Linked DNA regions of Homo sapiens: all the other regions are linked to region 3. Evidence: fine-mapped expression QTL. A gene starts in region 3. Each other region holds a variant in brackets. All regions are shown on one strand. Distances are from middle to middle.

Region 1 (2,500 bases), 330 kb after region 3:
TGTTTTTTCTTGTTGAGATTTTTATCTCTCTTTGCCTTTTAAAAAGGACAAGATGACATTTAAGGGCAAGTAATTGCATCCGTGTAAAGCTTCTGCTACAGTTTTAAAGAATCTTATAACTTTGTACTCCTTAATTCAGCTTAATGTATGTATGAATTATATACCTTGCGGGAATGATCTGGTATAACTGATCTGAACTGAGATTAAGGAAAATCTGGTAGGACTTCTTTAAAAACAAGGTAGATTTATAAATTCATTTTTCTAGTTTTGTTGTTTATTATTCCTTTTCTTAATAGGAAAAAATAATTAGGAAGGAAATAAAATCATAGCAGAATCAGTATTACAGAAGGTTGAAGCAGTTATGCAACTTTGCTAGAAAGTAGTAGGACTGGCAATAAAGCAGTTGAAATCCTTCCCCCTGTAGACACAAATTACACCAGTAGCAGGGATTCTCATTATTTTATACAATTGTTTTCTTTTTGTGTGTATGTGGAATACAACATTGTCTTTTCTTGTGAAGGATGAGTATGTATTACAATTCTTGTGGTAGCACTGGATAGAATTCCAGTGCTACTGGAGTTCTATCCTAGAATCACTATTTTCTGTGACCCCTTGACCCTGAATTCTTCCAGCATGTCAGTTTCCTCATCAGTAAAATGGAGGTGATATTACCTGGTCTGGTGCATCTTTGGGTGATTATGAGGATCCTATAACATGTATGAAAGAACTTAGAAAATTAAATCGCACTAATAAATGTTTTTGAAATAATTTTTCTTTAAATATTTGCCATATAAACATCCCTTGGTCAGGTATATATAGATTGCTTAGTTTTCAATTTCAGGTTAATATTTTTACCCCTTTAAAAGACAAGAAAGTAAATCAGATTATATGGAAATTGGCAACCATAAGTCTGTGCAATTTACTGTATGTCATTGAGTTATGTTGATTAGAATGGGAATTATTTTCTTAACAGCATAGTATTTGGAAAAGTTGAAATAATTTCATTTTCTGGGGAAGGAGTCAGCAAGGTAGTATTAGAAAAAGCTTGTGTGGAGAGTCAGAATGCCTGGATTGAAGTTCTGGCCCTGTAATTTAACCACCTCGGTAAGTCACTCAACAGCACAGAGCCACTGTTCCCTCATCTGTAAAAGGTGACAGTGACGCCAGTCTTGCTTTTGCTCACAGGACTGTAGGGAGATCAGATGAGATAATGTGCATGTGAAGGTGATTTTCACATTAAAAAATGCTATATTAGTAAAAGCTAAGTTGGACTGAACTATAAAAGGCCTAAGGTCAGGAACGGTGACCCAACTATATTGAGAAAGGTTTTAGTGTTTTGACTTTTGGAGGTTTTTGATTGATGACCTGTTCAACATGTGCCTTCAAAAAAATAATATGTTCAACAACTTTAGTGTTTCCTTCCAGTTAAGTATACAGCCATTGCCAAGACCCAGGTGGTAAATTCATGCCATAT[A/G]CTACTATTTAAATAATCATATAAAGTAATGCAAACATTACTACTGTTTCCATATTTTGAAACATTTTGTCACCTTTTCATCATTTAATTTTGGGATGATTTCAAATTCCAACTCAAGTGGTGACAGTATTTGCTTTTATGTGAAATGTTTGAGATGCAATTAGTAAAAAACAAAAATGACAAAACGTATCAAAGTACAGTACAGAATTTTGTTTTTTGTTACAACTCTGAGTTCTAGGTGGCCCTAAGTAGAAAAGCTGCTGACATGATGTGAACATAATTTCTTTGTCATTAATGTTAAGAGGCAAAAACTAAATTCTAAACTTGATGCTTTATCTTTTTGTTCATTTTAAGGCCACTTTTTAAATATAACTAGAACTATTATATCTTTTAATACTTATTATTGAGAGAACGAAGCCTGTGAGCAGTTGAACTTTCAAGTGCTATAACCAGAATTGCTATTCATTTTAGCTACTTGGACAAAAAACAGTGTTTGATGGACTGCCTAGGTGAAGACCTGGAAAAGGAAGGGTTATCTACAAATGAGTGAGTTTATTATGGCTTAGTGATTTGCTGATTGATTTCATTTGCTGTCAGTTAAGGCTCTCTTAATGTCAGTTTTCTTTGCATAATGCCTTGAAATGAAGACTGATGAAGTTCTTCAAATTGATGCCGCTTATATAAACTGACCCCGATTTGCCCTATTCTGCATGACAACTTAAGTGACAGCAGTTAGAAGAAAATACAGCAATGAATATGCAACTTAAGGATTAAGGAAGATGCAGTAAATCAGTCTAAAGCTAAGTACAATGATAATTTCTTGTAATAATTCCACAGATGCCTTACATTTGTTAAACAGACTGTTATTACTCTCAAATACTCAAATATATGTTTTCATTATATACATGTATTTGAATTGAAGAAGAGAACTAAAAGTTATTCCAACAGAGATCCTAATTCTTTTCCCTCTTATTTAAACTTGGAATTATCAAAATCACAGTTTTAAAAATATTTTATTTAGGATAT
Region 2 (2,772 bases), 40 kb before region 3:
TAGATAATACTGTTTTAAATACGGGACTCAACTGGAAATGAATTAGGAAATTTTTTTTGAATTGGTAAAAATTGAGAATTTTTTGAAAGCGATACAGCATGTCTTTAAAAAGGAATGAAAGAAGACAGTCCCAAAGTAAAATGTCCTGTAAGGAGTTTCGAGAAACTAAGTATACCTGGGCAATATGCAGAGAGTTCCAAGTGGAGCAAAAAGAGAAATTGGCAGAGGAGAAGGAAGGGTTGGTGAAATGTCTTGAAGCTTCTCATTCTGAATATGAATTTAATGTGTGTAGTAGGAAGCTACTATAGGTTGCTCAGCAAGAAGGGGGTAAAAATGATTATTTAACCAGTTCTTGATGTTTCAAGGTAGATGTTAGTAGAAAGAGGCTGGGGGTAACTGGAGTACTCATGAAATGACGCATTTCTCAGTGAGAATGGTGACTAAGAAAAGGGAAGGAAGAGCACAACTAAGTAATTACACAAAGGAATGATTGTCAGGTGTTGGCTATAAATTATGCATAGGAAAAGGTGGAAAAAGATGTATTGAAGAAAAGCTCAAGATACAGAGTAAGAGAGACCAAAGCAGCATCCAGCAATCATTTTTTTGTGTGTATGCACTTTATTTGTTCTAAACCCTGTAAGGCCTTGCTACTTCAAGTGTGGTCCAAGGCCCAGCAGCAAGGGCTTTACCTGGGAGCTCAGGTAAAGCTCAGACCTTCCCCAGGCCTTCTAAATCATAATCTGCGTTTTAACAGGATCCCTAGGTGATTCTTACGCATATTCAAGTTTGAGAAACTGCTTTAGAGGATACCTCAGACTGTAAAAACTTCAAACTAAGAAAAACAGATATATAACAAGTTATAATTAACGTTAAAGATAACTTTTTATTAGTACTAATGGTAGGATTAACAGGTAAAGAGGGGGTAGTTAGTGTTAGAGGGGACCTCAGAAAAGAAATAAAAAAGGGAAAATGGAAAAGCATTGATGTTTTACTATTAGTATTTTCTGTTGTTTTTGTTGTTTTAAAAAAAGGAAGTACCATACTTAGCTCCTGCTGCCTTTAAGTTTTGTCC[G/A]CTTCAACCTGTGGTAGTTTGTGAACAACAGGAGATACCCTTTAAACAATAAAGGCAAAACAGGTGGTGGTTTAAGCTTCCAGAGAACAAAAGCCCAGGATCCCTGGGAGCAACAGTTCTGAATCTGCGAGGAAAGGGGGGGGGAGGGGAGGGGAGGGGAGGGCAGGGAACGGGGAAGGAAAGCTGGGCACATCCTAGCCACTTGGGAGAGCTTTTCTGTGCTCTTTTCCAGCTATGCTTGGTGCAGCCCTCTCCCATAGTCAGCCTTCTTAGTGGGGATACTTGAAAAAGTATACCAAAATGGAGATCAGAGGAGCAATGGGAAAGTTATAAGGAGAAAGAGTGTAATTTCCAAAACAACTGAAGCAAGGGGAGGGGGCAGGAAAATCCAAATGAGTTGAGGCAGGAACTTGGCCTACATTATCTCATTTAACCCAAGTGCCACTATCCCCATTTCACAGATGAGAAAATAAGCTCACAGAAGGTAAGCAGCTAGCTTGCCCAAGATCACACATCTAGTCCAGGGGCTGAGGCAACATTCTAGCCCCTCTGGCTACTTGCCCATGCCATTTTTGTGATCCCACATCGCCTCTAGGTGGGGCAGGGAGGCAGCAAGGCTGAAGGAGGAGTGGCTTATAATTAGAAAAGATGCTGGAAGGAAAAGCAGCCCAGTACTTACTCTTCCACCTTCCACCTTTGGGCTTGAAAGTATTCCCAGCTTCAAATTTCCTAACAACCTCCCTCCACACCATGCCATTCCCCAGCTTGTCCCCAGCACGAGACCATTCTGTTTAACTCCTTCTGGTCCTAAAAAACTCAACCCAAAAATCACCTCTGGAAAAGATGTGACCTAATCTTAGAGTAACATAGTTTCTTATTTACACTCTTTCCTACTAATCTGTAAACTGCTTAGAAGTAGGCACTATCTTATTCATCAGTGCAGGTACTCAATAAAAAAGCGCCGGACGCGGTGGCTCATGCCCGTAATCCCAGCACTCTGGGAGGCCAGGGCAGGTGGATCACGAGGTCAGGAGTTCAAGACCAGCCTGGCCAACATGGTGAAACCCCGTCTATACTAAAAATACAAAAATTAGCCGGGTGTGGTGGTGTGCGCCTGTTAATCCCAGCTTCTCAGGAGGCTGAGGCAGGAGAATCCCTTGAACCTGGGAGGAGGAGGTTGCAGTGTTCCAAGATCACCCCACTGCACTCCAGCCAGGGTGACAGAGCGAGACTCTCTCTCAAAAAAAAAATTCCTTTTCAAAAATATTTATTGAGTGAATGAGAGGGAGGGGCAAGTGAAAAACCCCAACAGACTCATTAATCCTTTAGGATGAAAATACAGGTAAGTATGACACATGGAAGTGTTTTTGTTTTGACTTTATGAATTTTTCTTGTACAGTACTTAAAGGTTAACCCTTTAAGAGCAGTGACATTTTTCATTCACTACAAATACATTCATTTTAACTATTTTAATGAAAATCTTTCTAAATGAGATCTTTATTCTAAAAAATTAGCAACAATCTCTTCCTTCGTATCTCTTGCATAATTTCCTACCTTAATACACAGTGTTAGTGATGCACCTTCAATTTATTGGTATGAACAGGTATTGAACTGTTTTCTCGTGTTGTATGTTAATCCTTATGATGGGGAAATAGTGGGAAGTTAGCAAGAATATGGGGGAAAATAAAGAGCATTAATCA
Region 3 (2,853 bases):
TTTTCCATTTCATTTCTAAACTTTAGAGTGGGCTATTTTTTCCCTTTATTTCCTCTGGAGCAATTGTCCTCTTTATGGCTCTAGTAAAAAGAATCAGGGACAGGCCTCCGTTTTAGATGTAAATGACTAAAATCAAACCAATTAAGGTTTCAGTGCTACAAGAATCAAGGAGGTTTTAATCTCAATTTGTGTTTGCATTTATGACCGTTGGCTCTCCCATGGGAGAGAGAAAAGACGGCCCCTACACCTGGTTTCAGGTTGATTACAATCAACAAGGACCCAGTTTAGTATAGAAGGCTCGTTTTGCATTAAACACCTTTTTGTGCAGAGGAGGTGGTGGTGGTGAAGATAAAAATCTTTGACCAAATCCTGTCAATTTGCATTGTTCTCTGGAAGAATAGGCTTTCAAAAGTTAAGGAACAAAAGAGGAGTTGGTTTTCCAGTCTCCCTTAGGCGGCAGCAGATTGTGAAGCAGCCACCGGGAGGAACCAAAGTATAAATTATCAATAAGAGGACGGTGTGTGTGTGTGTGTGTGTGTGTGTGTGTGTGTGTGTGTGTGTGTCAGAGAAAAGTGAGAGAAGCGAGGAAAGAGATAGGGAACACACATGCTAAGGCTCCGAGGCGTTTTCCACGATGTGCCTGGTTACGTAATGTTGATAATGAAACGCACTGCAAGCAGCATCAATGCATTCTTCCGACCCTGCTCACCACTCCCAGCTGGGATACAATGGGGACGGGAAGAGGGGACAGGATGCCCTGTGCAGGCAGAGAGCTGTCCAGACAGAGGTAAACCAGGCAGTTGGGCAGAACCCGAGCCCAGAGAATTTCTCCCCAGGCCCCGGGACCAGCCCACCGTTGCTGTGGCTCTAAAGATGGGCAGAAGAACCAGTTTCAAAAAGCAGGATCTGGGATCCGACCTCTTAGGTTTTTATTCAGCAGGCAGGGAAAAGGGGTTAGAAGCTGGAAATCTGCATTTCCACTCGGCTCTGGCGACTGAGACAGGAACGCGGACACCTCACGCTGAAAAGCCACAGCAGCGCGTGGGCAGGGCGCACCCCCGCGCGGGGACGCGGAGCTCCTGGAGCGAGAGCGCGTGCGGTCGCGAGCCCGCCGCTCCCCAGCAACGGCGCATGCGCCCGTTCGTCCCTCAGCGAAGGCGCGCTGCTTGGCGGGCGGGCTCTTCCAATCCGAGCCAGCGTTCTCGGAGTACGTATCCAGGAGCTGCAAGCTGAGGGCTGCGGGAGGCGGGAGGAAAAAGTGGGGCCGGGCCTGAGTTGGGCTGACCTGTGAAAGTCTGGGAAGGTCTGCGAGAGAAGCGGAGTGTTTTCAGCTCCGGAAGTGGCAGTTGTAAACTTCACCTCCCGGGGGCTCTTCCCCTTCTGTACCCCTTTGCTGTTTGTCCCCCTCCTCCCGGGTCCTGGAGTCCGTCGTGTTCCAACAGTTTTTGCTCTTATTCCCGTGGGCTGCCTGGGCCTCCTTTCACCCGTGAGACTTGGAGCGGCCCCTGGGGTCTTGGGTGTGCAGCACGGATCACGCGAGACCCCTGAGGTAACCGCACGGTGTGGGGGCTTCGAGGCGGACGACTTGGGAGGGAGGTGTTGAGAGGGTTGTAGGGGCCCCTGAGTGAGTTTGGGGCGGCCCTGGGGCTGTTGGCGTAGGCTTTGGGGCACGCCTCCAGCTCCCTGGGCTGGGTCTCCCCGCCCACCTGGAGGAAGATCTCCGTGGAGCATCCTAGCCAGAGATCGCTGAGGCTGTACCAGAGCGCCGGATGGGGACCAGAGGGGAGGCAGAGGACCGGGATTTGGAGCTTCTTAGGGTTACTGCTGCGGAGCGCTTTCGTTCCCGAGAATCAGTAAGCCCCTCGAGGATAGGGACCACGTCTTTCAGCCCGCTCTCCCCTTTTTAAATGCCGGCCACACACTAGACACTCTACAGATGTTTGATAAACGGGAATGAGTTGTGCTAGACTGTCACCTGCAGCTTCTACCTACCCTCCAGGACTCTGAGAGACTTAGAATCTGAGTCAGCTGTGCGTTTTCCCGAAGCTGTAAATTTTCTGCAGAAATGGAGCCGACTTTTTGAATTTTTTTATTCCATTATGATATTGATCCTAAGAAAATACATATTTCATGTATACATTTTAGGTAAATGAGATAAATACGTCTTTATTTTGTTTATTAGAGTTGGTGTCCAGCTCTTTTGAATACATGACATACCGATGTTTTATGGTTTTCATAATATTGGAGAAAAGAACATACGATTTTGTCACTTTTTTTTTTTTTTGAGATGGAGTCTTGCTCTGTCACCCAGGCTGGAGTGCAGTGGCGCGATCTCGGCTCACTGCAAGCTCCGCCTCCCGGGTTCACGCCATTCTCCTGTCTCAGCCTCCCCAGCAGCCGGGACAACCGGCGCACGCCGCCACGCCCGGCTAATTTTTTTGTATTTTTAGTGGAGACGGGGTTTCACTGTGTTAGCCAGGATGGTCTCGATCTCCTGACATCGTGATCCGCCCGCCTCGGCCTCCCAAAGTGCTGGGATTACAGGCGTGAGCCACTGCGCCCGGCATGTCACTTATTTTATTTAACTGTTAGTTCCTACTCTCAACAAAACAGTGGTAGAGCAGAAGATGAACATGGTTTTTCATAAAATGCAGAGGAAACAAAGGCAGTGCAACCTGCTAAGAGGAAAGATGAAGGGCATAGTCTTAGTTTGTAGCTTTCTGTGTTAGTCTTGGGGCTCAGCCATTTATGAGCTGCGTCCCCACAGGCAAACCACCTAACCTTCCTAGGCGTTAGGTTCTTTATCTGTCAGATAAGGAGGAAGGACTTAGTCTCTAAAGTCTCATTTGATTC

What was found. PIP is the estimated chance that this variant, and not a neighbour inherited with it, causes the effect.
Region 1: its variant is the best candidate, but not a certain one, in a credible set for the expression of CCDC171 in tibial nerve (GTEx, PIP 0.52).
Region 2: its variant is the best candidate, but not a certain one, in a credible set for the expression of CCDC171 in monocytes (TOPMed, PIP 0.77).

What each region holds. Positions count from the first base shown.
Region 1 is chr9:15,883,569-15,886,068 of GRCh38, forward strand. The region is part of intron 24 of CCDC171 (coiled-coil domain containing 171); the gene reads left to right. Among named protein-coding and RNA genes, the nearest start is that of CCDC171, 330 kb to the left of the region's middle. The variant A/G (reference allele first, on the strand shown) is at 1,475.
Region 2 is chr9:15,511,956-15,514,727 of GRCh38, forward strand. No RefSeq gene overlaps it. Among named protein-coding and RNA genes, the nearest start is that of PSIP1, 2.4 kb to the left of the region's middle. RefSeq lists enhancers at 1-34, 687-1,305. The variant G/A (reference allele first, on the strand shown) is at 1,073.
Region 3 is chr9:15,551,754-15,554,606 of GRCh38, forward strand. CCDC171 (coiled-coil domain containing 171) reads left to right here and starts at 1,290. Exons shown (of 26, transcript NM_173550.4): 1 at 1,290-1,549. RefSeq lists enhancers at 887-1,532, 1,428-1,597 and silencers at 988-1,047, 1,058-1,147.